Homo sapiens: one gene and its partners. The protein of the gene in region 6 purifies or fractionates together with the protein of the main gene of each other region. This does not show direct contact. Each region holds a gene or a part of one and is shown on either strand. Other genes may lie near its edges. The genes, in order: NUDT21, FIP1L1, CAPZA2, WDR82, CPSF1, ARHGAP11A and SF3A1.

Evidence for each region.
Region 1: the proteins of ARHGAP11A (region 6) and NUDT21 purify together in Homo sapiens (affinity purification with mass spectrometry, with the first as the bait; one large-scale study listed by BioGRID). This does not show direct contact.
Region 2: the proteins of ARHGAP11A (region 6) and FIP1L1 purify together in Homo sapiens (affinity purification with mass spectrometry, with the first as the bait; one large-scale study listed by BioGRID). This does not show direct contact.
Region 3: the proteins of ARHGAP11A (region 6) and CAPZA2 purify together in Homo sapiens (affinity purification with mass spectrometry; 2 studies listed by BioGRID and IntAct, with this or other methods). This does not show direct contact.
Region 4: the proteins of ARHGAP11A (region 6) and WDR82 purify together in Homo sapiens (affinity purification with mass spectrometry; one large-scale study listed by BioGRID and IntAct). This does not show direct contact.
Region 5: the proteins of ARHGAP11A (region 6) and CPSF1 purify together in Homo sapiens (affinity purification with mass spectrometry; one large-scale study listed by BioGRID and IntAct). This does not show direct contact.
Region 7: the proteins of ARHGAP11A (region 6) and SF3A1 purify together in Homo sapiens (affinity purification with mass spectrometry, with the first as the bait; one large-scale study listed by BioGRID). This does not show direct contact.

What each region holds. Positions count from the first base shown.
Region 1 is NC_000016.10:56,437,833-56,441,332, forward strand, and holds part of NUDT21 (cleavage and polyadenylation specificity factor subunit 5), read right to left. Parts: intron 1,915-3,500; coding exon 1,825-1,914; intron 1-1,824. UniProt on the Homo sapiens protein: Component of the cleavage factor Im (CFIm) complex that functions as an activator of the pre-mRNA 3'-end cleavage and polyadenylation processing required for the maturation of pre-mRNA into functional mRNAs.
Region 2 is NC_000004.12:53,383,613-53,388,073, reverse strand, and holds part of FIP1L1 (pre-mRNA 3'-end-processing factor FIP1), read right to left. Parts: intron 4,302-4,461; coding exon 4,198-4,301; intron 1-4,197.
Region 3 is NC_000007.14:116,903,770-116,908,230, forward strand, and holds part of CAPZA2 (F-actin-capping protein subunit alpha-2), read left to right. Parts: intron 1-407; coding exon 408-614; intron 615-2,493; coding exon 2,494-2,573; intron 2,574-4,461. UniProt on the Homo sapiens protein: F-actin-capping proteins bind in a Ca(2+)-independent manner to the fast growing ends of actin filaments (barbed end) thereby blocking the exchange of subunits at these ends.
Region 4 is NC_000003.12:52,257,721-52,262,181, reverse strand, and holds part of WDR82 (WD repeat-containing protein 82), read left to right. Parts: intron 1-702; coding exon 703-802; intron 803-1,680; coding exon 1,681-1,797; intron 1,798-2,309; coding exon 2,310-2,465; intron 2,466-2,915; coding exon 2,916-2,985; intron 2,986-3,503; coding exon 3,504-3,646; intron 3,647-4,461. UniProt on the Homo sapiens protein: Regulatory component of the SET1/COMPASS complex implicated in the tethering of this complex to transcriptional start sites of active genes.
Region 5 is NC_000008.11:144,398,820-144,403,280, forward strand, and holds part of CPSF1 (cleavage and polyadenylation specificity factor subunit 1), read right to left. Parts: intron 4,172-4,461; exon of another isoform or gene 4,048-4,171; intron 3,296-4,047; exon of another isoform or gene 3,096-3,295; intron 2,855-3,095; coding exon 2,827-2,854; intron 2,745-2,826; coding exon 2,611-2,744; intron 2,473-2,610; coding exon 2,392-2,472; intron 2,257-2,391; coding exon 2,105-2,256; intron 1,999-2,104; coding exon 1,852-1,998; intron 1,675-1,851; coding exon 1,535-1,674; intron 1,527-1,534; exon of another isoform or gene 1,458-1,526; coding exon 1,347-1,457; exon of another isoform or gene 1,267-1,346; coding exon 1,173-1,266; intron 1,050-1,172; coding exon 962-1,049; intron 892-961; coding exon 769-891; intron 685-768; coding exon 633-684; intron 555-632; coding exon 457-554; intron 384-456; coding exon 309-383; intron 220-308; coding exon 139-219; intron 50-138; coding exon 1-49. UniProt on the Homo sapiens protein: Component of the cleavage and polyadenylation specificity factor (CPSF) complex that plays a key role in pre-mRNA 3'-end formation, recognizing the AAUAAA signal sequence and interacting with poly(A) polymerase and other factors to bring about cleavage and poly(A) addition.
Region 6 is NC_000015.10:32,628,444-32,632,904, forward strand, and holds part of ARHGAP11A (rho GTPase-activating protein 11A), read left to right. Parts: intron 1-284; coding exon 285-359; intron 360-1,151; coding exon 1,152-1,319; intron 1,320-4,461. Other genes in the region: ARHGAP11A-SCG5 protein, read left to right, coding at 285-359, 1,152-1,319. UniProt on the Homo sapiens protein: GTPase activator for the Rho-type GTPases by converting them to an inactive GDP-bound state.
Region 7 is NC_000022.11:30,336,048-30,340,508, reverse strand, and holds part of SF3A1 (splicing factor 3A subunit 1), read left to right. Parts: intron 1-127; coding exon 128-313; intron 314-1,257; coding exon 1,258-1,379; intron 1,380-1,474; coding exon 1,475-1,720; intron 1,721-2,611; coding exon 2,612-2,819; intron 2,820-3,328; coding exon 3,329-3,483; intron 3,484-4,461. UniProt on the Homo sapiens protein: Component of the 17S U2 SnRNP complex of the spliceosome, a large ribonucleoprotein complex that removes introns from transcribed pre-mRNAs.

The DNA of each region.
Region 1 (3,500 bases), on a different chromosome or scaffold from region 6:
GGATGCTAAGGAATTAAGTCATTCTTCTGAAAAATGTTAAGTAAAGGAATAGCAGCATATTTTTTTTTTCTACACAAACCACACACTTCAGTAATACATAAGTTTCTTTTTATATGAGGATCACAACCCTTATGAATTCATAGACCAGGAAATGATCATCAATGAGCTGCTAACATTACAACAAGAAACAACCAAATATTTTTAAATTCCTGATGGAAGTACACTATACCAATTGTGATAGACTGCCTTAAGATGACCCCCAATGATTCCTGTCTCCTGGTATTCACTGCTTTGTGTAGTCCCTCCTATAGCGTACCAGGGTTGGCTTGTGTGACCAATAGCACACAGCAGAAGTGATGGTATGCCACTGCCAAGATTAGGTTATCACAGACTGAGGCTTCCTACTTGGGCACTCCTCTAGCACTCTGTCTCTCACTATCTCTTGGATCACACAGCCTTGGGTAAGCCAGCTGCCTGAGAGTTGTCCTTTTAGAGATGTTCTCATGGCAAGGAACTGAGGGAGACCTTGAGACAACAGCCAGCAACACCTGAAGCAAAGCTTTAGTCTAACAGCCCAGATGAAACTAAGAAGTTTGCTAACACACACACGTGTAAGCTCGGGATCAGATACTTTAACCCCAGTTCCACCTTATGATGCAGTCCCAGCTGACAACTTGACTGTAACTTCATGACAGAGCCTAAGCCAGAACCACCCTAAGCAACTCCCAGAGGCCTAAAGGCTGCTAAATTTTGAGGTAATTTGTTATGCAGGTATAGATTATATACCGCCTATGACAAGCCTTGTTACCCCTCCCCAAATTAACTGAGCCTGAATACAATTTCTAGATCTAACTATCAATTTGCAAGACACACAGGGGAAACAGCTACATATTCAACAACAACAGGGGAATGCAATCGAAATGGAAACATTAGCCTGTTTTCATTAACAAATAAAACACAAGGAAAAAAAAAAGGTGCCAAGTGTGTAAAAGAGACTTTAGAGACTATCCTAATCCAAACAAATTATAAAAAGAAAATAGAAATAATCAGGATACGCGAACAGTGACTATATATTTGACAATAATATGGAATTGTTTATTTTTAGTATGATAATAACAGTACTATAGTTATCTTTTTAAAGAGATCCTTATTTTTATGATTCACACTGAAATATTTACAATTGAAATGAATAGCTAGGATACACTTCAAAATAATCCAAGATGAGGGTAGGAGAATGAAGCGGTGGAATGAGGGGTTGTGATGTGCTAACTGTTAAAGGCAGACGACGGGTAGCGCAATTCATTCACTTTTACCATTCTCTCTTCTTTTGTATTTGTTCTATTTATTTATTTATTTTTTGAGAAGGAGTCTCACTGTTGTCCAGGCTGGAGTGCAATGGCACAATCTCGGTTCACTGCAACTTCTGCCTCCCAGGTTCAAGCAATTCTCCTGCCTCAGCCTCCGGAGTAGCTGGGATTACAGGCTTGTACCATCAAACCCAGCTGATTTTTACATTTTTTAGTAGAGACGAGCTTTCACCATGTTGGCCAGGCTGGTCTCAAACTCCTGACCTCAACAGGTGATCCACCCGCCTCGGCCTCCTGAAGTGCTGGGATTACAGGCATGAGCCACCTCGCCCGGCCTTGTATTTGTTTTACATTTTCCTTTAAAATAAGAAGTGCTTGGCTTAATTTTGTAATTTAAATTAAGGAGGGAAGAAAAGAAAATTTCAAGTCAAATTCTACTTTAATCTTTTTTAAAGTGGCTAGAATTAAACGAGCTTTCTGCTTCCAAAATGCCCAGCAAATGTAACTGAACACTGACCTGAGGAGGTTCAAAATTTGGTCTCCACCAGTTACCAATGCAATCGTCAATGACCCAGTCTTGCAAAACTCCATCCTGACGACCCAGTATCTGTCAAAAAGAAATAAGCCAGTAAACAACTAAATATATGTACTCACAAATCCCCTTCTTCAGTGAACAGAAAATTCTTAGCAGTGCTCCTAATTGAAACATAGGGATAATATGCCTTCCATACAGATTTTCTATGATTTGTTAATATAGATGTCACTCTGCCCAAGACATACAATATTAGTTCAAAACTGGCAAGCTAGTATCAACATAAAAATTGTGTTCAAAATTCAGCTTTCATTTTTATTAATTTGTATAGCAGAACACTAAACTTATTTTAACCAAAGTCATACTCTACATATTTTAAGTGGCCAAAAATAGTTCTACAATGTTCATGGTGAGAAACTGCAGTTCTCTGTCCTGCTTCACCCATTCCCACTGGCTGTAACTTTCAACTCTTGGTTGTTTTTCCCCTCATGTTTTCTTCTATTTTTAAAAGCATTCTTCTTGGTCTTAAATAAACGGTTTATTTTAGGATAGTTTTAGATTTACAGAAAACTTGCAAAACTTGTTCAGAGACTTCTCATATACCCCACACAGTTTCCCCGACTGTTAACATCTCACACTAGTAAAGCACATTTGTCAAACTAATCAACCAATACCAAGACAAGATTATTAACTGAAGTCCATATATTATTCAGATATCCATAGTCTTTAACCTAATGTCCTTTTTCATTTTTCAGTCCCAGGATCCCATCTAAGATACCATATTACACTTAATCTTCATTTCTTCCGAGGTTCCTCTACATTGTGACAGCTTTTCATACCTTCCTTGTGTTTGATGATCTTGATAGCTTTGAGGAATACTGGTCAAGTATTTTGTAAAACATCCCTCAATTAAATTGAAGTTATGAGCTTTTGGGAAGAAAACTACAGAGGTAAAAGGGCCATTCTCATCACGTCATATCAAAGGTACATGCTATATCAATATGGCTTATCACTAATGGGCTGAGGTACTGTTTATCACGTTTCTTCAATGTAAAGTCATATTTTTCAAAAAAAAAATTTTTTTTTGAGACGGAGTTTTGCTCATTGCCCAGGCTGGAGTGCAATGGCGCAATATCGGCTCACTGCAACCTCCACCTCCCAGGTTCAAGTGATTCTCCTGTCTCAGCCTCCGGAGTAGGTGGGATTACAGGCACATGCTACCATGCCCAGCTAATTTTTTGTCTTTTTAGTAGAGATGGGGTTTCACCCTGTTGGTCAGGCTGGTCTCGAACTCCTGACCTCAGATGATCTGCCCACCTCACTCTCCCAAAGTGCTGGGCTTACAGGCATGAGCCACTGCACCGGGCCTCAAAACTACATTTTTTAAGAGATAGGGTCTTGCTCTGTCACTCAGGCTGGAGCACAGCGACGCAATCATGGCTCACTACAACTCCTGGCCTCAAGCAATCTTCCGGCCTCAGCCCCACAAAGCACTGGGATTACAGGTGTGAGCCACCATGCCCAGCCAAAATATTCTTTTATGACAGTTTCTTGATTTTCATTTTATTTTATTTTATTTTTTTGAGACAGAGTCTCGCTCTGTTGCCCAGGCTGGAGTGCAGTGCCGCAATCTTGGCTCACTGCAACCTCCACCACCCAGG
Region 2 (4,461 bases), on a different chromosome or scaffold from region 6:
GTAGCTCCACAGCTAGAAATGCAAAAATTACAAAGTGGACCAAATATTACTACTGTCAAGCAGTACTATCGTCACCAACTTGAAATAATCATTTCATAGGCTGATTAATTCATGTAATGCTTACTGAGCACCAAACCATGTCAAGTATGGTTCTAGGCTGAGGAAAAAGTATGAGGAGCTGGACAATTACGGTTCCTGCCTTCACGATGTTTACATTTTAACAATCCAAATTCAGAAAAAGTGACTTAGCGGTATCTACATATGATGTACATGATTTTTCTACAAATGTACAAAAATCAAGGATTTTCTCTAAACTGTTCTCTTACAGGACCGTATAGAATAAAACAGTATTTTTATAAAAGGCTTAGCCACAAGTGTTCAATAAATGAGCTTCTTCGCTTTCCACCTAGCTACTTTCTATTCCCCATTCTGCCTTTTAAAACATCATTTTTCTTTTTTAAGCCACAAGCCTTTGTAGAGAAGCCTGTGTAGAGAAGCTTAGTGGTATGAAAAATTGCAGAGGCAAATTTGATATAATGTCCAATAGATCCCTATGAAGTCTCAGACCACTCTAAATGCTAGATCCTATACTTGGACTTTCTATAGGAACTCCAAAATAAACATGTCAAATGAATCTGTTTTGTGGGAGGTGGGAGCAGTAGCACCCACCTGTACCCAATTAACTGCTCTAGAAATCTTTAAGTCACTGAGCCCTTTATCTCCTCCTCCATCCACAACCAACCAGTTACCCATGTTATTTGTTTCTATTTATTCTTTGAGACAGGATCTTACTATATTGCCCAGGCTGGCCTGAAACTCCAAGGCTCAAGCAATCCTCCTACCTCAGCCTCCCAAGTCCATGGGACTACAGGTGTATACCACATGCCTGACTATATTTCTGTTTCTCTAATACTCAAATGTACTATTTTCCCATTCATCTCTCTACTACTGCTGCCTTAGTCTAGATTATCATCTCACCTGGACAACTACTTCACATCTATTAGTCAATGTCTCTCTATCTAACCCATCTCAACTACTGATGCTAGAGTTATCTTTTCAAATGATATGACCTGTCTAAAAACCTAATTAGGGGTGTCTAAGGGAGAGAATACAGTCATGAGTCCTTAGTTTCTGTTTCTGGTTAGGCCAGTAAAGCCCCTTTATCACCCCTCTTTTCCACTTATCACTGGAGACAGAAACTAAAAACCATGGCTTTGGGCAGCTAAAAGACTAAAACAAAGCAAAACAGAACAACAACAGCAACAAAATAAGGTGCATTGGACAAGCTTGCAAGGTCTACAAAGACATAGCAAAAGCATCCTAACTCCTTCCATAAGTGATTTCAACCATCTCTTTTCATCTACCTTATCCTCCAGCCATGTACTTCCTCCAAGGCACGCATCTAATATATTTATTGTTAGGCAGTGTCCTCCACCTAAAAACCACTGTCTCCCATCTCAAAAATTATTCAAACAAGTTCAAATGTTACCTCTGGGATCTTCTCTTCAACACCTGTAGGCTTTTAGCAACTCTCCTCTCAAACCTTTCGAATCACTTTGTACATGTTTCTATTCTAGCACTTATGTTGCACTGAAAATATTTACTCACATGTCTGGCATCCTCACTACCTCTGGAAAATAATAACTTCCTGTATTCTCATCAATTAATACATTCACAGATAAAAAATTGCTGCTTTCATGTAACTTTATCTAATTTGTTAACTCCATGAAATTTCATGGTGATTTTACCAAGGGTTCTTTTGTAGCATGGTAAATGTAAAAACAATAATAATAATGGAATGATCACAGATGGTTTGATAAAGGCACATTATCTTTGCTACTTAACACAGTGCCAGATAAATTATGTCTTTAAAAATTATTTATTGAGTACATAAATGGATCAATCTCACAGAGATAGGTAACAAACTACTTTCCAAGATAAATTATTTCTACTTTAAGAGTTGCTTTTCTTCATACCTTACTTACATATAAAATGAACTTGTAACAAAGGTATGTTACGCAAAAAAAAAAAAAAAATGCTATTTTGTATTTCCTAACAATTTACAATAAATCAATTCAGTCCTTGGACACAGTTTGTTCTTTAAATTTGCTTCTGAAAACGCTGTGCATAAGTAAATGTTTATCAAATTTCATTTTCTCACTGACTTTGTTTTCAAGGGATATACCTTGAAATATAGAGGTTAAACAACTTTACACTCTTCACAAATGCCTGTACTTTACTTTCGAAATGCATAAAATGAATAAAAAATAAATCAACTGATAAATGGGTAAACGCATAGAGGGATATGAGTTCAAGCAAACAAAGCAAAATGTAGATTGTATAATCTAGGTGATGGGTAAATGAGCATTCACATGTCAATTCCTTCAACTTTTGTGAGCATTTGAAAATTTTCATAATCAAATGTCTAAGGGGAAAAACCCTCAGAGACAACTGTAACTAAATAACATTCAGTTTATTTAGTCAATAACCATTTACTGCACACTTAACTGTATTTAAGGCAATGTGAGGAATAGAAAACTCCATAAATCACAGTTTCTTGTTTTTTTGAAGAGTTTTGAATTCAATGGTTTCTACTCTATAGAAATCTGAAGTGTGTAAAGGTAATAAATATGTATAAACATAATTACAATGCATAAAACTGAAAATTGCTATAAGAAATAAAGTTTAGTAAGGTACTATGGAAGTCCACGTATATTTAATATTTGAGTGCAATTTCTACCAAAAAAAGGTCCCATCCATAATCCAAAAAAATTGTCATTTGCTTCAAGTTGTTCTATAACTTGCAAATACAAATAATTTTACATAACATTTAATGAACATGCAATTATTACAATTTTATGTGTTCCTTTTGCATCATGCAGATAGTAAAGGCCTACTAGTACTACAGTATAAGCCCAACTTTCTCATTAAGTAATTATTTACTTTCCCAAATGAGAATGAGGAGCACATTTAGAATATCCACCCCTAACATGAAAAATCAGCCTCTTTACTCTGTTCCCTAAAAAGGTGCTAGGATTTTAAAATTACATGGGTAGTCATTATTATAATACAAAACTGACTATGACAATAACTGAATTGGCTTTAAGCTTCCTGAAATGACTTCTGAAAACAAATGACTCTACTAATAAAATATTTAACAATATTTTTGTATATACTGGTTGATTCCAGATGAGGTTGCTTAATGAACTATAGTGAAATTAATGTATTTTATGTTTCCAATGCATAAGCTATAATAACCACATTATACAGCCAATTTGAAAAACAAAACACATTGACTCTTATTCTCCTATCGTAACTAAATCACAATTCGTACTTCAATGTATTTCCCTTCCAATCTTTCTGTAAGATTCTTTATGCGCTCAATGAGTCAATGACAGTCCATTTACTTGGTCCAGTTTATAGAATACAAAATTGGAGACAAACATTGGCCTAAAAGGCCTAAGGGAGAATTAGAAACCTGAAAACACTATTAAGAACAAAAAGAAATACTTTTGATATTGTTTTTATTAGGCAAAAAAATTAAAAACCTAAACTCAGGTCTGGATAATAAAGTGAAATAATAATAAGTACAGATACAAATTACAATTTAAGGATTTCTAATTCTAATCAAAGAATTTATAGTACTTTTTTTTTTTCTTTTTCTCGAGACAGAGTCTCACTCTGTTACCCAGGCTGGAGTACAGTGGCTCGATCTGGGTTCACCGCAACCTCCACCTCCCAGGTTCAAGTGATTCTCCTGCCTTAGTCTCTGGAGTAGCTGGGATTACAGGTGCCCACCACCATGCCTGGCTAATTATTGTATTTTTAGTAGAGATAAGGTTTCACCATGCTGGTCAGGCTGGTCTTGAACTCCTGACCTCAGGTGATTCACCCGCCTCGGCCTCCCAAAGTCCTGGGATTACAGGCATGAACCTCTATGCCTGGCCTAGCACTCAATTCTTTTATAAAAACACTTTAAATTCAGCATCAAAAACTGCTGCTTCTATGTACCTTCGCCTAATCAATTAACTGTATTTTAGCAAAGAAGTATATTCATGATGAAACTTTAACAAGTTCTTTTATGTTAAAATAGAAAAATGTAAAAACAATGGACTCAACCACTGAGAGTTTGATATAGGCACACTCTCCTTACTATATAGCATTTACACAATTGTTACTTACTAAAAAATAACTTACCCATACTGTGGTGCTCCCGTTTTAATGTCTCCTATAGTGACATGAACATCATCTTCATCATCATCGCTGTCACTATCACTATCATCTTCGGTCTCAGTCACTTTCTACATGAACATAAACAAATTATAAAATACATTCAGTAATCCATTTCAACATCTAATACTAATAACTAAAAAAAGTAACCACCCTGTTTTTTTTTTTCTTTCTTCTGTCTTGAGACAGACTCTCACTTTGTCGCCCCGGCTTGAGTGCAGTGGCATGATC
Region 3 (4,461 bases), on a different chromosome or scaffold from region 6:
CCAGACCAAAGCCATTCAGGTAACCACCCTGATTGGAGGTTCTCACAAGTTCTGTAGTTTTGAGGAACTGGAGTCTGATACCAGACATTGTAAACTGTTAGAGTTCTCAAAGCAGAAAACCCACCAAACCCACTTGAACAGTGTTTTTAGAGGTTGCATTTTTTTTCACCAGTAGCTGGAAGTTATATTGGGAGAAAATCTGATCTGCACTGGATGAGAGTAATGTCATTGTCTGTATAGTCAACTCATTTGAAGTATTAATAGTTGTACCATATGGTTAAAATATATGCTTGGAGTAGGATTGTTTTATAGTTTTAAGGAAGAAGCTTAAATGAGTGTAATTATGATGTATCAATATTGAAATGCTGTTTTTTTATTTTTTTTCTAAATTCATTCCATCATCAAAGGTATTGATAACAGAACATGGCGACTTGGGAAATGGAAAGTTTTTGGATCCAAAGAACAGAATCTGTTTTAAATTTGATCACTTAAGGAAGGAGGCAACTGATCCAAGACCCTGTGAAGTAGAAAATGCAGTTGAATCATGGAGAACTTCAGTAGAAACTGCTCTGAGAGCTTACGTAAAAGAACATTACCCGAATGGAGTCTGCACTGTAAGTCATCAGTAGCAGCTTTGTGTGTGTGTTTTGTGTAAATGTGAGTCTTTAGCGTCTCTTAAAATTTACAGTAACTTACAGAATTGACATTGTATAATTTGTCATTTTTTTCCTTAAATATTTCTAAGAATGTTTACTATTTTTTCAAGAAATTCTGGATAATAAATAGATATACTAGGATGGCTTAAAATAGAGAAATGGTTGTACCTTGATTTAAATCCATGTAGAAATTCTAATACATTGATTAAAGGAGCAGGATATGGTGAGATTCTGTAATCTTATGTTCATGACTCGTCTCAGTTTAGATCAAAGTTATTTTTATTAAGTCACAGAAATCTTAGAACAAATAAAATTACTTGGAAGTAAAATTATGTGTTTCTGTATTTTACAGTTACATTTCTTGTGTTTTTTGTGTGGTTCTTTCGTAGGTTCAACCTATTTTTATATTTTCAAGAAATATATGGCTGGGCACAGTGGCTCACGCCTGTAATCCCAGCACTTTGGGAGGCCGAGGCAGGTGGATCACCTGAGATCAGGAGTTCGAGACCTGCCTGGCCAGCATGGTGAAACCCTGTCTCTACTTAAAAAAAAAAAAAAAAAAAACAATTAGCCGGGCGTGGTAGCACGTGCCTGTAGTCCCAGCTACTCGGGAGGCTGAGGCAGAATTGCTTGAACCCAGGAGGCAGAGGTTGCAGTGAGCCGAGATTGCGCCACTCCACTCCAGCCCAGTCAACAGAGTGAGACTCTGTCTCAAAAAAAAAAAAAAGAAAAGAAAAAAAAGAAATACAAAATATGGTAGTAGGAATACATTTCTTTTTTAAAAATTTCATAATATTATTTGTACCCTGACAGGCTTTTTTAGCACCCCCAGTTTGTGCTTCAGTGGCCTTTTCCATTGCCAGAGTGATCTTTTGAAATGCAAATCAGGTCATTAAAATTCCCTGCTTGAAATCCTTCAGAGATTTCCCGTTGCCTGGACTTAAGAGTCCAGGCTTTTGAAGGTGGCTTAAAGGCCCTGTGACCACGTGGCCTCTGCTTACCCCTCCAACCTAACTCTACCATATATCCTAGTTTATACCTGCTTTCTCAATGTAATTATTAATATCACCAGTAGCGTACCCCATTTCTTTCTTGGAAGTTTCCTGGTTAGGACAAAAATTCATATGGTCTGCTTAAGTATCTAGCTCTCTGATTATTTGAGAAATATTGCAACATAACCTCAAATATCTTATGTATTACTTGAATTATAACTTGTTCATCAGGATTATTTTGGAGGAATAACGAGAGTTAAGGGAGTACTTGTTAGAGAGTCCTCATTTATTCTAGAGGATTGAAAGGCACAAATTAATTATTATTTTTAAAGCAGTAGGCAAGAGGTGAAATAGCATTGTGATACATCACAGGCATTCTCTTAACGACCTTTCTCACTTATAAGTAAGTTAATTTATTCCAGTACTTTTAAGTGACTAAAGAAACAGCAGCCCCTAAGATTGTGAAGTGAACAAAGGTGATAATCACAAGCTAGGTCCAGTTTTCACTTGCATGGAAAAAGCTAGATTAGCATCTGTATGTTTAAAATAAATTATCTACTTATGAAAGTAGATTATCTAGAATGTTCGTGAATATTTCAGAGTACAATTAATTTTAATGAATTGTATTTTATTTAGTGTCCCCTTTTGTGGTCCACTAATAATTTGATTACGCATAAATATTTGAGAACATGTTTTTCTAGCTACTATATTGGAATGATGGCCTACTTTGTATTTTATGTGTTCTTGTCAAAGTACTGTACAATTTGCAGTATTTTATAGATTTTTAAAGTTGGACATTCCATGGCCCTAAATTCATTCTTATGCTTATTTTCTTTGCCAATAAGGTGTATGGCAAAAAAATAGATGGACAGCAAACCATTATTGCATGCATAGAAAGCCATCAGTTCCAAGCAAAAAATTTTTGGTAAGTTAAAATTTTGGATATTGGGGAGTTTTGGCATTGTTTTAAGTCTTTGTAGTTCTTGCTTTAGTGATTTGGGCTACACCTTGTTTGTTTATGATTAAGAACAATTTAGAGATGGTATAAAATTTTAGCCTTTTGATATAAGGAAGGTAAATTTGCTCAACAGCCTAATCACTAAAGGTAGTGGTAAATCTGTTGACATTCAGTGGAAAGAGTATGGGACTAGCAAACAGCATCCTGAGGGAGCATGTGTGCCTGCGAGAACACCAGTTGGCAATCCATATGCTCATTCTGTGAAGGGGCTGTTCCTGAATGAAACTTATGTGCAGGAGAACAAAGATAATTATAGAACAAAAAATGATACTACTTTTGTGAACTTTGTGACTCTGAAGTAGAGGATTGCTTTGTACTTGGTTAGCCAATGTGAGGAAATAATGACATGTTTTATACAATGAGGAAGATTACATTCATGCCTTGTAATTTTGTGTACAAATAATTCCATTATTCCTTATAAACTTCAAGCCCTCAGGAGCACTGATTTACCATACTGGTCTTGGACCTTTGACAAGTTGTTGGTCATTTTTATTCTTAGACAAGACTATTTCTGAGTACCTGTTACAAAATTCTGAGGTTCTTTAAGACTTTACAAGTCCATAATTGAATGAAATCTTTACGTTTATCCCTGTTTTACATGCTGAGGTCACCAGAATAAGTATGGTCATAATATTTACCTTTTAGTATATTAGCCTTTGACTTACTAGCCAAGTTGGTTGGTGGTGCTATTAAGGGTAAAGTAACAGGTAACCCCTGTGGGCCAGTTGGGTTCATGGCCCAAGGTTGCTCCACTGCTTAGCCATCTCAGAAATAAATGCAGGGTTGCAAGGTTAACCAAGAATATTTGGAGGAATGCAGATCCATCATCACTGAAGGAAAATCAATGCCATATGTGAATGTATGCCTTAATGACTAGCCACAGTTCCCTAAAGGTTCTGTCATATAGAGTTACTTTTATGGACTTAATATAAGTGTAGTTTCTCTGTGTTGGGTCTAAAATCTTGTAGCATTAATCTAGAATCCTGAAACAATATTTATAAAATTATTACTAATTTATGTTATTTATGCCAGGAAACACATAATAAAATCAATCTTGTTGAGATGGAGCTACTATTAGAAGAAAATTCTTTTTACTACGTTCTTCTTTATAATACATTGGAGCTGTTACAATAAGCTTACTAATTTGTCTTTTTAAAATCTAATTCCTTTGAGCTTTAACATATATAAAATGAAGAAAATGTCTGTCCTTGAGTTTTATTTTCTGTTTAGAGACAGAGTCTTGCTGTGTTGCCCAGGCCGGTCTCAAATTCCAGGGCTCAAGTGATCCTCCTGCCTCCGGTTCCCAAGTAGCTGGAACTACAGGTTCACATGGTGCCCAACTTGTCATTGAATTTTCTATTCTCACTATTTCACTTTACAAGGGTAATTTTTCCTAAGCCATCACTATGAGCATTGTATCACTTAACTTAATGGCTTTCACTTTCTGGAAAAAAATGTATTTTATATGCTTTGATATGATTTTTCCATAGTGATAATATCATGGCACAATAGTCTCAGTAAAATCTAAGTAGTTAATACAAAGAACTATACTTCAAGCCAGGCATCTGTAATCCCAGCACTTTTGGAGACCAAGGTAGGAGGATGGCCAGAGGCCAGGAGTTCAAGAAACCTGGGCAACATAGTACGACCCCATCTCTAGGAAAAAAAAAAAAAAATTAGCCAGGCATGGTGGTGCGTGCCTATAGTCCTAGCTACTTGGGAGGCTGAGGCAAGAGGATCTCTTGAGCCCAAGAGTTCAAGCCTGCAGTGAGCTATAATCACGCCACTGCACTTC
Region 4 (4,461 bases), on a different chromosome or scaffold from region 6:
AATGGATCAGTTCATATCTGATCTTTTGTGCCTGGCTTCTTTTACTTAGCATGGTGTTCCCAAGGTTCCTCCATGTTGTCACATGAGGCAGTACTTTATTACTTTTTATTGCCAAATAATGTTCCAGTGTATAGATACAGCACATTTTGTTTGTCCATCCATTAGTTAATGGACCATTTGGGTTATTTCTACTTTTTGGCTGTTATGAATAGTGCAGATCTGAACATATGTGTACATTTTTGTGTGGACATATATTTTCAGTTATCTTGGGTAAATACCTAGGAGTGGAGTTTCTGGGTCACGTGGTAACTTTTTTTGGAAAAACTTTTCCAAAGCAACTGTACCATTTTTACATTTCCATTAGCAATGTATGAGGGTTCCAATTTCTCTGCATCCTCACCAACACTTGTTATCTCTCTTATTATAGCTATGCTAGAGGGTGTGGAGTAGTATTTCATTGTGGTTTTGATTTGCATTGGAATCATATATTTTTATTTTGTAGCTTTAAATTTTTTTTTTTATACTAGTTGCCTTTGTTTGTTCCAGATATGGTTGTGGTATGTGTGTTTTATTGTGTTTCTTAAAATGGCAATTTTGGGAGAACAGGTATATATATGTATAGATAGGCAGAGTGGTTTAGAATTCACATCCAATTTTTGCTAATATTTCGCATCAACTCCTATTTATCTCGATGTATTGCAGGGTGGTGGCCTTGTCCATGTCACCTGTGGATGACACTTTCATTTCTGGGTCTCTTGATAAGACCATTCGACTCTGGGATCTCCGGTCTCCTAACTGCCAGGTAATGGTACCTCACAGTTATACTTTTTGAGCATTTTCTTTGGTAGGCACTGTAATGAACTCTACCTCTCAAAGAAGGGAGAAAACAGTGGTTCCATTCTGGGATCACAGGGTCTTTTTAAACTTTGGAGAAAATCTGTTTTTTTAGTTGGTAGCTGCTAAGCACATACCCTAATCTAGTGCAGATTGCATTGTACTCTGTGGCTTAATTGTTGTGGGTTTTTTGTTGTTTTGTTTTGTTTTTGTTTTTGTTTTGAGACAGGGTTTCGCTCTTGTTGCCCAGGCTGGAGTGCAATGGTGCAATCTCAGCTCACCGCAACCTCCACCTCCAGGGTTCAAGCGATTCTTCTGCCTCAGCCTCCCAAGTAGCTGGGATTACAGTCATGCACCACCATGTCTGGCTAATTTTGTATTTTTAGTAGAGACGGGGTTTCTCCATGTTGGTCAGGCTAGTCTCCTGACCTCAGGTGATCCTCCTACCTTGGCCTCCCAAAGTTCTGGGATTATAGGCGTGAGCCACTGCGCCCAGCTGGCTTAATGTTTTTAAAAGTGTTCCTAGAGCTTTTAGCTTCAAGGGATTTATTTTTATTTGAATTCTGTGTCTGTAATATTGTGCAGTTAGAGTTGATCAGAAATTGTTGTCTGGAGACCTGTTTTTTAAAAGCTTCATTTTAGTTTTATGTTTTTTTTGTGTGTGTTCTGTAGGTAGGCTGATATTTGTTTGTATGCCTTTCTTAGTTTTAATTGGGAAAAGTAAATTATATAGTGGTAAGGTCCTGGATTCATTTTTTTTTCCCCATTGTACCAGCAGTCTTTGGTTATTCCACGTATGGTTGTGGCATGTGTGTTTTAGTGTATTTCTTATTTCTTTTCTCTTAGGGCCTCATGCATCTGCAGGGGAAGCCAGTTTGTTCTTTTGATCCAGAAGGGTTAATTTTCGCTGCAGGTGTCAACTCTGAAATGGTCAAGCTTTATGACCTTCGTTCTTTTGATAAGGTAAATCTTTGAATCTTTGAGATCTTTGAGCTGTTTTTTGTTTTGTTTTGTTTTTGAGACAGAGTTTTGCTCTTATTGCCCAGGCTGGAGTGCAGTGGTGTAATCTCAGCTCACTGCAACCTCTGCCTCCCAGGTTCAAGTGATTCTCCTGCCTCAGCCTCCCAAGTAGCTGGGATTACACGTGTCCGCCACCACGCCTGGCTAATTTTTTGTATTTAGTAGAGATGGGTTTCACCATGTTGGTCAGGCTGGTCTCAAACTCCTCACCTCTGGTGATCCACCCACCTCGGCCTCCCAAAGTGCTGGGATTACAGGCGTGAGCCACCGCGCCCGGCCCTGTAAGAGCCTTTTCTACAAAAGGAAAAATGTGGTAGATATTAGAGAGTGGCAGAGAAGTAGCTCATTCTCTGCTTTCCTTAGTCAAAAAGTAATCTAAAGGAATAGGATGGGAATTGGCTCTAGCAGAAGAAATTATTAATATGCCTGGGGCTACTGTTTTTTATCTTTTGCAGGGGCCATTTGCTACCTTTAAGATGCAGTATGATCGAACTTGTGAGTGGACAGGACTTAAATTCAGCAATGATGGCAAGCTCATCCTCATTTCCACCAACGGCAGCTTCATTCGTCTGATTGATGCATTCAAAGGAGTGGTGATGCACACATTTGGGGTGAGCTGACAGCCTTCAAGCATGGCTGTTTCCATGCTCATACTTCCTATGCTAAGAATTATGTTAGCTGGTTGGTGGAGACCAACAGTTACTCTTGACTTACTCATGAAGGCATGCACTTGTATTTTCTTCCTGCTCATGAACTTACCTCTCTTGGATTTCGTAGATGTTCATTTCTCACCAAGTGACCCAAGTTTGGTATTTAGATATAAAATAATTTCCTAACAATAAAGTTTTCTTGCCCCCTTGAGTATGCCTTGAATACAGAGTTGAGGGTGGGAGTGGATTGTCAACGATGGCAACCACATTTGGAAGCTTGGTGGTGTAGTACATGACAAGGAAAGGGTTTCATGGAAAGGAAGGTGATGCATGTGCTGAGTCAGTGTTTGTAGGCAGCTGTTTTTATTAATGGCTCTGTAAGAACAAAAGAACTGCTCTGTTTTGTTTTAGGGTTATGCCAACAGCAAAGCTGTCACACTGGAGGCTTCATTTACTCCAGACTCTCAGTTTATTATGATTGGTGAGTTTCCTTTTATCCCCTGTGGGGGTTATTTCTCTGGTACTATGCATTTCTTTGTTTAAATTATTAACTGAGACATTATTATCTATTTGATAGATGTTCTTAGATTTCTGTATAGCACATTATGCCAAGGACATAGTGTCTTTTAACTGCCCTGACTGGACCAAAATTTGAGTTAAACTCCACAAGCACTACCTTATTAGTAATGCTAATGTCCTGGTGTAACCCTACATTCAGTCATCTTAGTGGCTGCCTGTTGGTAGGGTAATGGTATTCGGCCCCTTTTTTAGATGAGAAAACTGAAGTTAGAACGGAAGTGACATGCCTGTGAACAAATAGCTAGGGTCAAGATAAATTTCCAAAGTGTCCTTCCTTCACTGCCTCTCCTCCCTCTCAATTTTGCCTGAGGGATGGGTCCTAAAGCTTGGCGTATCCTCAGATCTCAATCCATGTCTCATTTCCAGTTGTCTTTGTATTGCGCCTTGAGCTGTTACATTTTCCGTGAATATCCTCTTTAGGTTCAGAGGATGGCAAGATCCATGTCTGGAATGGAGAGAGCGGTATAAAAGTAGCTGTGTTGGATGGTAAACACACAGGCCCGATTACCTGTTTGCAATTCAACCCCAAGTTCATGACTTTTGCCAGTGCGTGTTCCAACATGGTATGTGAACAGTAAGAGGTATCTGCTACTCAGGGACCCTTCCCAGTTGGGGTGGTGGGTGCCTCAACAAGCACAGCAAGCTGTGTTCTACATAGGTACATTACAAGCATCCAAGTACATGTTTCTCAACTGGTGGTTTCCCTATTTCATCTCCTATTATTTGATCTCTGGCTGGGCTGGTCTTGCCTTTCATTTTTATTCTTCCTAGAGGTGATCAGGAATCATCTTTGAGTTCCAAGGAGATCATAGGCCAGTTTTTGCTCTGGACCCTAATTTTAGGTCCAAACTACCTGGGCTATGCTTGGCAATTTTTTTGCTCCTTAAAATACTCTGAACCGGCCTTTTGTGGTTTCAGTTTTCCATTCCTGTTGGTTTACGCCAAATTCCCAGAAATTTCTACAGTTGGTCATAACTCACCACTTAGAATTAACTCCAGGCCCTTATCTCTTCCTAGATAATACTAACAGAACAAAGGATCAGTGAGTCTCAGCTCCAGTTTTCCCTTGTGATCTCCTAAACCTGCCTGGGTATTCGGGGATGAGACATTTCATTACTAGCCTACCCGGAGCACATTGCCACCTTGCTTTTTTTTTTTAACCAAGAAAAAAATGTTAGAAAAAATACAGCAAAACCATCCAGTTCCTTACTTTTTACAGCCCAGGAAGGTGGGGGCCTGTTGGAGGTAACCTGGTGGATTAGCAATGAGGACAGGTTACTTATTCACCCACCTCCCAGGCAGCACTCCTTTTTTTCCCTTCCTTTAAAAAAAAGGGGGCGGGGGGTCTGCTTTGGTGGAAGGTGGACAGTGATTATTG
Region 5 (4,461 bases), on a different chromosome or scaffold from region 6:
AGCAGCCGGGAAGCTCAAAGGTTGTCACCACCTGGGGCCGGATGCTCTTCTAGAATGATGATGGGGTGGGGGTGTGATGGGGGTGTGAGCCCACCCAGGTCCCACCAGGAGGCGCCCGCCCCCTACCTGCCCACACACCTGCAGCACCGACAAAGCCCCGTTCTTCCCGTGGCCGGAGCAAACCACAATCTCCAGGTCCGGCTCGGGGCTGTTCTGAAACTGCACAGGACTCGGGGGTGAGGACTATGCCCCCCACCCCCCCTCACACTCCAGCCCCTGCCCCCAGCCCCGACCCCAACCCTGGGCACCTCTTCAGAGAGGAAGGCAGGCTCGCCCACGGCGGCATTGGCACAGGGTCCAATGTTCAGGATGCTGTCACACACCTGCGGCACAGCAAGAGTCAGGGGCCCGCTGGGGGCGCTGGCTGGGACGGGGGCCCTGCTGCCTCAATCTCACCTCAAAGGAGTAGGTGGCCAGCTGTGTTCCCGACTGGGCCTCGCTGCCGTACACTTCAATCTCGTCCACCTCATCCTGCGGCACCGACTTACCCGCAGCTGCACACAGAGAGCCCACTTGAGCGCAGCCCTGGGTCACCTGGCCCCGCTCCTGACCAGCCCTGGACCGGCCCTCACCTGACCAGCCGGCCGTCGCATCCACTCGCTTCTTCTTTGAGGGAGGCTCTTCCTGTGAGGCAGGAGGGGCACTGAGTGGCATGCCACAGCAGTGCCCACATGAAGGGTGGTGGCCCAATGGGCCCAGGAAACCCACCTTGTCGGCAGCCTCACGGACAGCACTGGCCGGGGGCTCCTGCAGCTTCTCCGTGTACTTGAGGAGGAGGGAATTGCCCAGGCGAGAACCCAGGAACAGGTACCCGGGCTCCATGGTGACCATCTGAGGGAGGGCAGGTGTGTGATGGCTGGGCCGGGTCTGGACCCAGACCCAACCCCTAGTCCCAACTCACGCTGGTGGTGAGGACGCTGGCGGCCGCCTTGTCAAAGTGGAACGCTCGGACACTGCGCATGCCGTCGGTGATGAGGGTCAGCACGTAGCTGGGGGCAGGGAGAATTCTGAGTCGGGGATGGGGACCCTGGGGGAGTGAAGGGGGCCAGGGGACCCTACAGGACTTGTGGGGGGCGGTGTGGGCAGAGTTCATGGGCGGGGGAGGGGCTCACATCTCGCCGCCCTTGAGGGAGATGACCATCTTGTCGTAGGAGATGAAGGTGGCCTGGGCGCAGTCCAGGGTGATCCGCACACCCTCCTGGGTGCCTGTGGGGTGGGTGGTCAGGCCGACTAGGCAGGCCCAAGCCGTCCCCGGGCCCCCCCCGCCCCAGCCACCCCACACTCACGAAGCGGGAAAGCCGTGGTTCCTGTGGTGAGGCTGTTGAGAGCCACGCCATACGGGGGGACGCTCTGGTTCAGGTACAACAGCGAGTTGACGGCAAACACCACCACCCCACCTGGAGGTGGACACAGGCTGGTGGGCAGGCTCAGTGCTCTCTCCACACACTCCCCTATCCACTCCCAGGACACACACCTATGGGCTTGGGCACAGCCAGAGCCTGGGTGCAGTCAAAGGGCAGGCTGGTGAGGGACCAGATGACGGGGTGCACCTTCTGCGTGATGTTCAGTGAGATGGCCACAATGGAGCACGTGTCCTGCCGCACGGCCACGCGCCTGGGGACGCCAGTGGGTCAGCCAAGGGCCTTGCCTCCCCGCAGAGACCCAGGCCCAGCTCCTCCCGAGCAAGCCCCACCACACCCCATAGGCCCCGCCCTAAACCCCATGGGCCCCACCCCAGGCAGAGGCAGCTAGGGGGCCCACAGTGCAGAGGGGCCTCCTTAGGGGGCTCACCCAGGCCAGGTCTGGTTGGGCTCAAACAGGATGAGGAGGGTAGGCTCGTAGTAGCCATGCAGGAACTGCAGGTCGATGATGTTGAGCAGCTTCTCGTCTAGGGCCCGCACGTCGATGATGTAGCTGGGCAGGAAGCTGGACCTCTGCCTGGGGGGCCAGGGGCTTCAGCAGGAGAGGAGGGGAGGCGGGGAGGGGAGCTCGGGCTCTGGCGCCTCCCACCCCAGCACCACAGCCTGCCTCAGCTGGCACTCACCCCTCACCCACGAGCCCCTCGTGCTCCTCAGCCAGGCTCTCCCTGCGGAAGGGCAGGACCACCAGCCGCGTGCCGTAGACAAGCATGGCTGCACAGCGCCCGTCGGGGTCCACCCGCACTCGCGGCGTGTGTACATTCTGCACAAACCCGTCCTGGGGGCAGAGGGGGCATCAGCCAGGCCCAGCATAGGAGACCCCGAGGGAAACACTTGGGGCCACAGAACCCAGCTGCAGGGGGAGGGAGGGTGGCTGGGCGGGGCCTGGGCGGGGGCGGGAGCGCGGCCCTACCCGAAGCTCAGGCTCCTCAAAGTAGTGCAGTGACAGGGTCTTCAGGTCATGGGTGCCCGGGTCGTACTCCACCACAGACAGCTGCGGTCAGAGGGCACAGCCGTGGCTGCCGACTGCCGGTCCTGACAGTGTCGCCCCCGGCAACCAACGGCTGTACCCAGGCCCTGGCACCCACTCCCACGCCTTGGCCAGGCCTACCCCACCAAGCCTACCACTCACCTTGGCATCCTTGAAGCTTAGGAGCAGGGCATCCCGCTTGGCTCCTGCCAGCTGCACGCTGGCCATGGACATGACGTTGCCAAAGAAGGAGAAGGAGGCAGCAAGCTCGAGCTTCTCCCGGTGGGCCTTCCCCTCTAGGGGAGACACCAGGGCTCAGGGTCAGGGCCCAGCCATGCCTGGCACCCGCACAGCCCCAGGCCGCCCCACCACACTCACCTGTGCTCCTGTCATTCTTGGTCAGAGCCTGGAGGGGAGAGAAAGACAGGGCAGTGAGGGGCCACATCTGGCAGCTCACCTCATCCGGGGAACGAGAAAAGACCACCAAGCCTGGCCCCTGCCTCCTGGGAGCTCTGCCCAAACCCTCTCTGCAGCAGGGAGAAGGGCTTCTGGAGACAGCTGTGCACAGCCCCCCACAGCGACCCCCATTCACGCTCTCATGCCCACGGCCCAGCCCTGGCACAGGCCCCTCCCCAGGAAGCCCCTACCTCACGGCTCCCTAGCAGCCAGGCCCTGTGCGGCAAGCACTCAGGGTTAGAGTGCACTCTGTGTCTGCACACCCCCAAACCTGCCTGGTTGCACACCTACAGCAGCCCAGCCCCGGCCCCTGGGTCCAAATGTCACAGGGCAGGAAGCCAGAGCCAAGGGGTATCTGTAGCTACTGATCTGCGTGCCTGTTAGAGAAGAGGAAGCCCTGCGCTATCCTGACGCCTCGGGCTCCCCCAGGCTGCCTCTCTATCTCCTCCCTTTTCACTGCCCTCCCAGAATGATAAGAGGCTGTGTGTTCTTTGCTACTAGGTAGCTAGTTTAACTAGCTAGCAGATTTATATGCCATTGCCTCAAGGCAAGGGAAAAGTGGTTTTTGTTTTGTTTTTTTTTGTTTTTTGTTTTTTGTTTTTGAGACGGAGTCTCACTCTGTCACCCAGGCTGAAGTGCAGTGGCGTGATCTTGGCTCACTGCAACCTCTGCCTCCCGGGTTCAAGTGATTCTGCCTCAGCCTCCCAAGTAGCTGGGATTACAGGTGCGTGCCACCATGTCCGGCTAATTTTTGTATTTTTAGTAGAGACAGGGTTTCACCATGTTGGCCAGGCTGGTCTCGAACTCCTGACCTCAGGTGATCCGCCCACCTTAGCCTCCCAAAGTGCTGGGATTACAGGCGTGAGCCACCTCAAGGTCATTTTTCACGATGGACTTGTGCTATGGGGAGGGCATCTTGGAAGCTGGTTAAGAGATACAGAAGAAGCATCCACAAACCAATACCCATCTCACAGCGACAAGGGCAACTCCAGGGCTTCACCCGCAAATTCTACCAAAGGTTTCAGAAGTAATGACACACTTAAAAAAAAAACACACACCCACTCATGTGGGGCTGACGGCACCGCAGGTGGCTCAGGCCACCCCAACAGCCCACAGACAGGTGGGACAGGAAGTGACACCAACCTCCTCAAAACGCCTGCAGATGAGCCCAGTGACAAGCAGGGGTATTGTAACACAACTGGGTTGAGTTATTCCAGGAACGCAAAACTAGATTTCCGCAAGAACAGCCATCGCTAAACTTACCATGCTGTCAAAATTAAGGAGAAAAATCATGTCATTTTAGTGGATACAAAAAAAGCATCTGATAAAGGCATTCGTGATAAAAACTCCTAGTAAAGCAAAAATAGGAGGAAAATTTTTTTTTTTTTTTTGAGATGGAGTCTCACTTTGTTGCCCAGGCTGGAGTGCAATGGTGTGATTTTGGCTCACTGCAACCTCTGCCTTCCAGGTTCAAGCGATTCTCCTGTCTCAGCCTCCTCAGTAGCTGGGATTATAGGCGCCCACCACCACGTCCAGCTAATTTTTGTATTTTTAGTA
Region 6 (4,461 bases):
GATTTCTTTTTCCCTACCCTTACTGTACATTATATGTATTTGTATTACATTTCTTTCTGTATTGTGTCTTTTTTATTTTAGGGATATGGAAGTATAAGTGGGGAATGGAATAAAAATATATCCTTTAGTATTTTTCCTATTTTGAAATAATTCCTCTTAAATAACTTAAAATTTATAAGCCGATGTAAAGTTACATGTTGAAAGAAGACTGCAAATATTAATATGAATTATTGGTGAAAGACAAGTAAATGTGAAGTTGTAATTGCTTATGCCTTGCATTTCAGATTTTGTTAGTGGAGCACTAAATAAATTTAAACCTAACAGAACACCTTCTATTACACCTCAAGAAGAAAGAATTGGTAGGTATTTATTATATGCATTTATTTAAATTAAAATTTGTATAGTATTCTATAAAATACAATTACAATAATAATTACCTAACTTAGTAATCAAATTTAGTTTAATCAAATCAAATATTATTTTTAATAGTCATACTGTACTATACACACTATGTTGTGACATTGCTAATTACATAGGCTATAATGAACCCAAAATTGTAGGCAAAAATTTTTTTAGTCTCCTGTCTTTAATCTTCTTAATCATGCTTTTCTGTTTGTAATTTAGATGCTATTAAGCGTGTGAAAATAGTTCAACCTCATTTTTATCTTAGGACTAGAAGTTCATTATTGTATATTTCAATTTTTTATTCTAATTTGCTTGTGGCTGAAATTATTCAGCCAGTAAGAGTCAACATGATCTTCTGTTTTCTAGAGTGAAGAAATGAACTGGTTAATACTCACTTATGATGAAAAGCAAAAATAATATTTAGATTAGTTTTTGTTTCAACTCCTTGATTGTAATTTCTTCCTTACATTAATATTCTTTAATGTATATCATATGCATCTTTTAGTCTGTTAGATTTAAGTAACTGCTGTCTCTTAAGAGTCTTGCCTCTGCGACTTCCTTATTTTCATTTAAGTAATTGCAGAGTGTTTTAGTTAAACAACATCTACTTAACTGATGATGTAAATATATTCTCATTTTTTGTTTAGCTCTAAGTAATAGCTTTATAAGAAGAAATTATGTAAAGCTTTTATATGTTGTCAACTCTGCAGTAGAAACAAGTTGGTTTTGTTTTGATATTTTTTCAGCCCAGCTATCTGAATCACCAGTGATTCTTACACCAAATGCTAAGCGTACATTGCCAGTAGATTCTTCTCATGGTTTCTCAAGTAAGAAAAGGAAGTCCATCAAGCACAATTTTAACTTTGAGCTGTTGCCAAGTAATCTCTTCAATAGCAGTTCTACACCGGTATCAGGTAGCAAATAGAATTTATATAAATGGATTGTAAAGATTAAAATGAGTGCCTATTCTGGGCACAGTGCAATTTCATATTAATAATACCACCCTTAGGAACTAGAACTTTATTCTGTTTTATCCAACCTATGAATTTTTATAAAACCCCCTGCCTTTTAAAATAGACACTGTTTCAATATAGTGTGTGTGTGTGTGTGTGTGTGTGTGTGTGTGTTATGACAACATCTATTGAAAGTTGTGATAACCCAGAGTAGTAGTTTGGGCTTCTGGTGATAGCATTGATGCTTAGGTTTTATGTGATTAGACATCCTGAATCCTGCTATAGTTACATCTGGGTCTATAGCTGTGGCTTTATTGCTGTCATTTGTTGAATTGAGGTTGCCAGATGTTTGATCATGTCTGATTCCCAAGTGGGAGCGTTACTATTGCAGGTTATGGTTTGAAAATGAGGGTATTTTTAAAGTTTTAGACTCAAGTACCTTTTGTAAAAGCTTTAGAACTTTGTTGACGCTGTTCCTTGTGCCATGGCTTCCAGATCCCTTACCAGCCCAGCCATTTTCTTCCATATTAACTACAAGTTCTAATGTGGCCAACCAGAGCCTTCAGAGAGTAATAGAGTATGATCATGCTAATCCGGAGATTAGTCTGGGTCTTAGATTCAATTGGCTCTTTTAGCATATACAGAATTCAAGTTGGCTCATATTAACCTTACGATCAACCAAAAATGAAATGAAACTCTAAGCCCAGGGTCCTCCATCTCATTTATCTTACATTTAGTCAAAATGTGAGTGATCTCTGATTATTTTAGATTTTTTATTTTGTTGGTTTCAGACAATGTTAAGTTTCATTTTTGATTCATTATCTGAGTTATATGAGTTCCTTCCCAAAGCCTGTCTCTTTTTTCTGTTGTCCAAAAGGGTTCTTATTTGTTTTATTGAGAAGTTGAACAGAATAGCAACTTGAGGTTTTCCAGAAAAAAACACTTCTTCACAGGTTCTCTAGGGCTCATTGAAATGTGATGATAGTAACTCTGAAGCTTATGTCTGTAGCTTTTGCAGTGTTCACAGGTTGGAGACTTAAACTTTTTTAAGTAACATAGTTCAGTTGTTTTTTTTTTTGAATATATCCTTTGCAGTTTGGAGGACTTTTTCCAAATGGCAAATGGGAGTTGTAGTTCTACCTGCCTTTGCTTATTAGCATTACATTTTCCCCAAGGAATGAACATACTGATTCCTTCTTCTCCTCCTCCAAGCTCCCAAAACAGAGGTTAAACAGTCTTGTGCTATTTTTAGTTTGAGCTTGCCTAATCAATGAATTTTTTTATAAAAAAATTTAAAAGTTCAACAATAGTAATCGTATTATTTTTACACCACTTTTCTTTGACCCTACTTTCTCAGCCACAATTCAACAAATTCCATTTGCAAAATTGAAAATAGATTGATTTCTAAGTTTAGATTATAACAAATATGATGCTTTTAAAAATATATAAAGGCAACATTAGTCTGTAGTCCATAGAGTATCTATTCATAATTGTCTCTTTTTTTTTTTTTTGAGACAGAGTTTTGCTCTTGTTGCCCAGGCTAGAGTGCAATGGCACAATCTCGGCTCACTGCAGCCACCACCTCTCAGGTTCAAGCGATTTTCCTGCCTCAGCCTCCCAGGTAGCTGGGATTATAGGTGGCCACCACCACACCTGGCTAATTTTCTTTTGCATTTTTAGTAGAGACGGGGTTTCACCACGTTGGCCAGGCTGGTCTTGAACTCCCGACATTAGCTGATCAACCTGCCTTGGTCTTCCAAAGTGCTGGGATTACAGGTGTGAGCCACCATGCCTGGCCATAATTTTCTTACAGATGTGATAAATTTGCATTGTTCCATATATTCTGACTGTGCCTCCTGCGACCATTGACACATTTTTTATTTTTATTTTTTGAGACGGAGTCTCGCTCTGTCTCCCAGGCTGGAGTACAGTGGCATGATCTTGGCTCACTACAACATCCACCTCCGATGTTCAAGTGATTCTTGTGCCTCAGCCTCCTGAGTAGTTGGGATTACAGGCATGCACCACCACACCCAGCTAATTTTTGTATTTTTAGTAGAGATGGGATTTCACCATGTTGGCCAGGCTGGTTTGAACTCCTGGCCTCAAGCAATCCGCCCACCTCAGCCTCCCAAAATACTGGGATTACAGACGTGAGTCACGGTGCCTGGCCGGACACATTTTTAAAGTGACTAGACTGCAGCCCTAGAATAAAGCTACTTATGTCACTTTAGATGTATAATATTGGCTTCCAAAATTTTCTTTAGCTAAATGCACCCAAAAGTTTCTAAGGTGGTTGTATTTTTTCCGTTTTCATAATTGAAAAAATGTGAATGTCTCTGGGAAACTTTGTGAATTCTTTATTAATAACTCAGATGAATTGAGAGGGTTCATGTTTGTTGAATGTGTCCTGGGCGTGATTCAAACATAAATGTATATGGAGCCTTTGTTCATAACTATTTTACTTCTTTCGTAATTGTTTACTATAGTTGATTTCATAATATAAATGGTGTTAAATAATTGAGCTTCTGTTGTACCAGTAATTATTTGCATGGAACACAGCAGCAGCCAAGGGATTAGGAATGTGTTATAGAATAATTAGTTTTTGTTTACTTGCCAAAAATATTGAACAAATTACATTCCGGAGTCAGGTGGGTAGCAGTTGGCCAGCAGGTATATCTCAAATACTCAGATTCCAACTTGTTTGCCAATAGCTTATTTTTTATAATACCATTAATTGGTATTATGTACTAGATACTGACTAAATATTTTATATAGATAACAGTAATATTCATCATAGAAGTCCGTTTTCAGAGCCTAAAGCCATTTAGTAAGTGATGGAGCAAACTCAAGCCTGTCTCCAAATCTTGTTCTTTTTCCAGTCTGCAATGGTGCCTATCCCTGCCTTGTATTATTAACAGAGTTTAAAGAAAAGCTCTAATATAAAAGTAATGCTTAAGCTGACCTTTAATTGGCAAGTCAAAAGTAAAAAATGAATGCTTTTTCTTAGCTGAGTTGGGTTATTTGACACTTGAAGTTTCTAACCAGAAATTAAGTGATTTCGGTTGTTGCTTGGGATAGAAATTAAGGCTTTGAATCTAAT
Region 7 (4,461 bases), on a different chromosome or scaffold from region 6:
CACAGTGCCAGGTACAAGAGTGGCACTGAATAGATGCCTTGATGAATGATGCACGCATGAAATACCACCCTCTTAACTCAGGTGGCTGCCCACCAGTGTTCTTACTGAAACATCTGTTTCCTTTTAGCCTCCAAGCCCTTGCCTCCAGCCCCTGCTCCAGATGAGTATCTTGTGTCCCCCATTACTGGGGAGAAGATCCCCGCCAGCAAAATGCAGGAACACATGCGCATTGGACTTCTTGACCCTCGCTGGCTGGAGCAGCGGGATCGCTCCATCCGTGAGAAGCAGAGCGATGATGAGGTGTACGCACCAGGTGAGGTGGGGGTTCCAGGAGAGCCCATGGTAGTCTCCGAATTACAGCCATCTTCTTCTAAGCAAACATAGAAAGCAACAATTGAGGTCAACAAAAGCTTTTGAGGAGAGTTGCACTCTATGATATTGCAAGAGAACTCCCCACTTTCCAGAAGAACTCCCCATAGAAATTCCCCAAAGGCAGACACTGAAGGAGATGCCATGTGCCTGTTGACATCCCAGAGCAAGCTCTGGCTTTAGCTGGAAGGGCTTCCTGTGGCTGTTTAGAAGGAGAGCATTGATGGCTGGAGTACCATGAGCTCTTTGGAATGGGGCAGGAACTGTGCCACAGGTGGGAGACTGGGCTTCTAGTTTTGACTCTGCCACTTACACCATGTGGCCCTTTCCACACAGTTGCCCTCTCTAACTCACCATCTTATTTATTTATGTGTTTTATTTATGAATGACGGAGTTTCACTCTGTCTCCCAGGCTGGAGTGCAGTGGCTCCATGTTGGCTACTGCAACTTCCGCCTCTCACGTTCAAGCAGTTCTTCTGCCTCAGCCTCCCAAGTAGCTGGGATTACAGGCACGCACCACCACACCCGGCTAATTTTTGTATTTTCAGTAGAGACGGGGTTTCGCTATGTTGGCCATGCTGGTCTCGAACTCCTGACCTCAGATGTGATCCTCCTGCCTTGGCCCCCCAAAGTGCTGGGATTACAAGCATGAGCCACTGTGCCTGGCCTACCGTTCTTTTCTAAGTCAGAGGGGTTGCCCAAGCACTGGGTTTATAGGCTTAGATCGGGCAGCTTTCCCCGAGCCCAGAGGACAAGAGTTGGGGCCCTGAGTCACCCTCATCCCATGGAACCAGCCTCCTCCCTGCACACCAGAAAAGCTGCTCTCTTGTCAGGACACCTGGTTTATTTTCTCTTTCTATCCTCTGCCTCTGTTTTGTGACTGTACAGGTCTGGATATTGAGAGCAGCTTGAAGCAGTTGGCTGAGCGGCGTACTGACATCTTCGGTGTAGAGGAAACAGCCATTGGTAAGAAGATCGGTGAGGAGGAGATCCAGAAGCCAGAGGAAAAGGTGCGGCTAAAGTGGAACCTAGTGCCTTCTCTGCCCCCCGTCTTCCATACTTGGTCTTAGTTCCAGAAGCATTGTGGCTTTGCTTTCACTTGCAGGTGACCTGGGATGGCCACTCAGGCAGCATGGCCCGGACCCAGCAGGCTGCCCAGGCCAACATCACCCTCCAGGAGCAGATTGAGGCCATTCACAAGGCCAAAGGCCTGGTGCCAGAGGATGACACTAAAGAGAAGATTGGCCCCAGCAAGCCCAATGAAATCCCTCAACAGCCACCGCCACCATCTTCAGCCACCAACATCCCCAGCTCGGCTCCACCCATCACTTCAGTGCCCCGACCACCCACAGTAAGCCAGCATCTACCCTGGAACTGACTTTTTTAGAGCTTCATTCTTGAGGTCGGACACTGTTGGCTGAGAAGTGCAGCTGCCTTTTAGTGGGGCCTGAGTGTTGGGTGGGTCAGTTTGAAAGAGAAAGAGCCCTTTAAATGCAAGTGGGAACCTCTCTCTTGATCTGTTTGTGGAGGAGGGTTGGAACAGGGAGGGAGGTAAGTGGCAAATATGAGAAACCAGTTGGCGTCAGAGAAGGGCTGCAGGGCTTATTGGGTCTTTGAGGACTGTTGGCTTGTCTCCAGGAGAGACTTAGTCGAGGTCTCGGCCTCTTTTTTTTTTTTTTTTGAGATGAAGTTTTGCTCTTGTCGCCCAGGCTGGAGTGCAATGGCATGATCTTGGCTCACCGCAACCTCCGCCTCCCGAGTTCAAGTGATTCTCGTGCCTCAGCCTCCCAAGTAGCTGGGATTACAGGGATGCGCCACCATGCCCAGCTAATTTTGTATTTTTAGTAGAGATGAGGTTTCTCCGTGTTGGTCAGGCTGGTCTCGAACTCCCGACCTCCGGTGATCTGCCTGCCTTAGCTTCCCAAAGTGCTGAGATTACAGGCATGAGCCACTGTGCCTGGCCAAGGTCTCAGCCTCTTTAGTGACTCTTTCAGTGTTTGCCAAAGTAGCAGGTCGAGTTTGACCCGCCAAGTCCCAAGTAGAGAGAGTGTCATCCTCGGGCTCTCAGCAGCTCAGTTCCTATTGGACGCCCAGTGTAGGCCACAGTTTCTCAGTCCCAGGGGGCCAGGACGTAGTTGTCTAACCTCCATCCTCAGAGCTGCAGGCAGCCAGTTGCCAACTGTGTGTGACCTTGGAGTCCAACTTTGGCTTCCTGTAATCTGTGGGTCTCTTTCCTGCACAGATGCCACCTCCAGTTCGTACTACAGTTGTCTCCGCAGTACCCGTCATGCCCCGGCCCCCAATGGCATCTGTGGTCCGGCTGCCCCCAGGCTCAGTGATCGCCCCCATGCCGCCCATCATCCACGCGCCCAGAATCAACGTGGTGCCCATGCCTCCCTCGGCCCCTCCTATTATGGCCCCCCGCCCACCCCCCATGATTGTGCCAACAGGTCAGTATCTCTTGCATCATTTTCCAGGCCATTAGTTCAGGGACCACGGGCCAAGTACTGTCAGCAGAGCAGTGGCTGATGCTAGTGCCAGCTGTTCCAGCAGGGTATCCAGCCCAGAGGAGAGCCCTGGCTTCCCATTGAAAGATCCGCAACCCTAGAGCTGGGAGCCACCGTTCCTGGTAGAAATGAGAGGCTGAAATGGTGTAGCCAGTGTCTGTGCATTCAGGGATCAGGTCCCCAACAGGCTCAGAGGCCTGAGAAATGCTTGTTGCTTGGCACTAGCTCCATCCATCAGTCCTGCCCCTCCTGCAGTCCTCTGCTGTCCAATCTGGGCAGCCTCCCAGGTCCCCTTGCCAGGGAACCTGCTGGCTGCCAGACTTAGCAGGGAACAGCACTTGACACCTCTGACTAGAGGAAACCTTTGCAACCTTCCCTCTCAACTTCTCATCAGCCCTGAGTCCTGGGCCCCTTCTGCCCTCTCATGGGGCTGCTTATTCTTGTCTTTGCAGCCTTTGTGCCTGCTCCACCTGTGGCACCTGTCCCAGCTCCAGCCCCAATGCCCCCTGTGCATCCCCCACCTCCCATGGAAGATGAGCCCACCTCCAAAAAACTGAAGACAGAGGACAGCCTCATGCCAGAGGAGGAGTTCCTGCGCAGAAACAAGGTATGTAATCCCAGAATGCTGCTGAAGTTTCTAGCTGGAGGGTTCAGTCCCGCCCCTGTCGTACACTTGCGAAACTGACCCTATTTCACTCCCAGTCTTGGCTTCTGGGGCCTAGGTCAGCTGTTGGAGGCATCTAAGGGCTTCTGAGCACACAGTGAATGTGGGGCCAACAATTGGAGGAGCAGAGAGCATTGGTGGTGATGGTGATGGTAGTGGTGGCAGAGGTGGTGACTGTGGTGGTCCCTCTGGTGTAGACTTACAGAGGCCAACAGGGAGACCCAGCAGCACGGGCAGCACAACTCACGTGTGAGAGGGACCCTAGACACCTGGAGGAAATTGTGTGTGGTGTTTTAAAATTTACTGTGGCCTTCCTCCCCAGCTCTAGCCCTTAGGAGGTCTGCCTGTTGGGTGGGATCCTGTTGGGGTCCTGGAATAAGGGGAGGTGGGGACCTTGTCACTGCTAATCACTAGGGAAGCTGTCAGGCTGCAGTAAGGAGACAGAAACAGCCCCGGCCTCTGCTCCCCCAATGTATTTGACCAAATTGTTTCGTTTTGTTTTTGCAACCTCTGCCTCCCGGGTTCAAGTGATTGTTATGCCTCAACCTCCGGAGTAGCTGGGATTACAGGTGTGCACCACACACCCAGCTAATTTTTGTATTTTTAGTATTTTAGTAGAGATGGGGTTTCGCCACGTTGGCCAGGCTTGTCTTGAACTCCTGGCCGTAAGTGATCCACCACGCTGGCCTCCCAAAGTGCTGGGATTACAGGTGTGAGCCACTGCACCCGCTCTGTTTGTTTTTTAATAATAGTTCCCATTTCTTAAACGCTTAAGTACCAGGATAGAGCTAAGCACTTTACAGACACTTCCCCTCAATACTCAAAACAGTCATGAACCCTGTCTGGTGGATAATGACATTGAGGCTCAGACAAACCTTGTTAGCTGGGAAGCTGAGTTGGGAATCCAGGTCTTCCGACCCT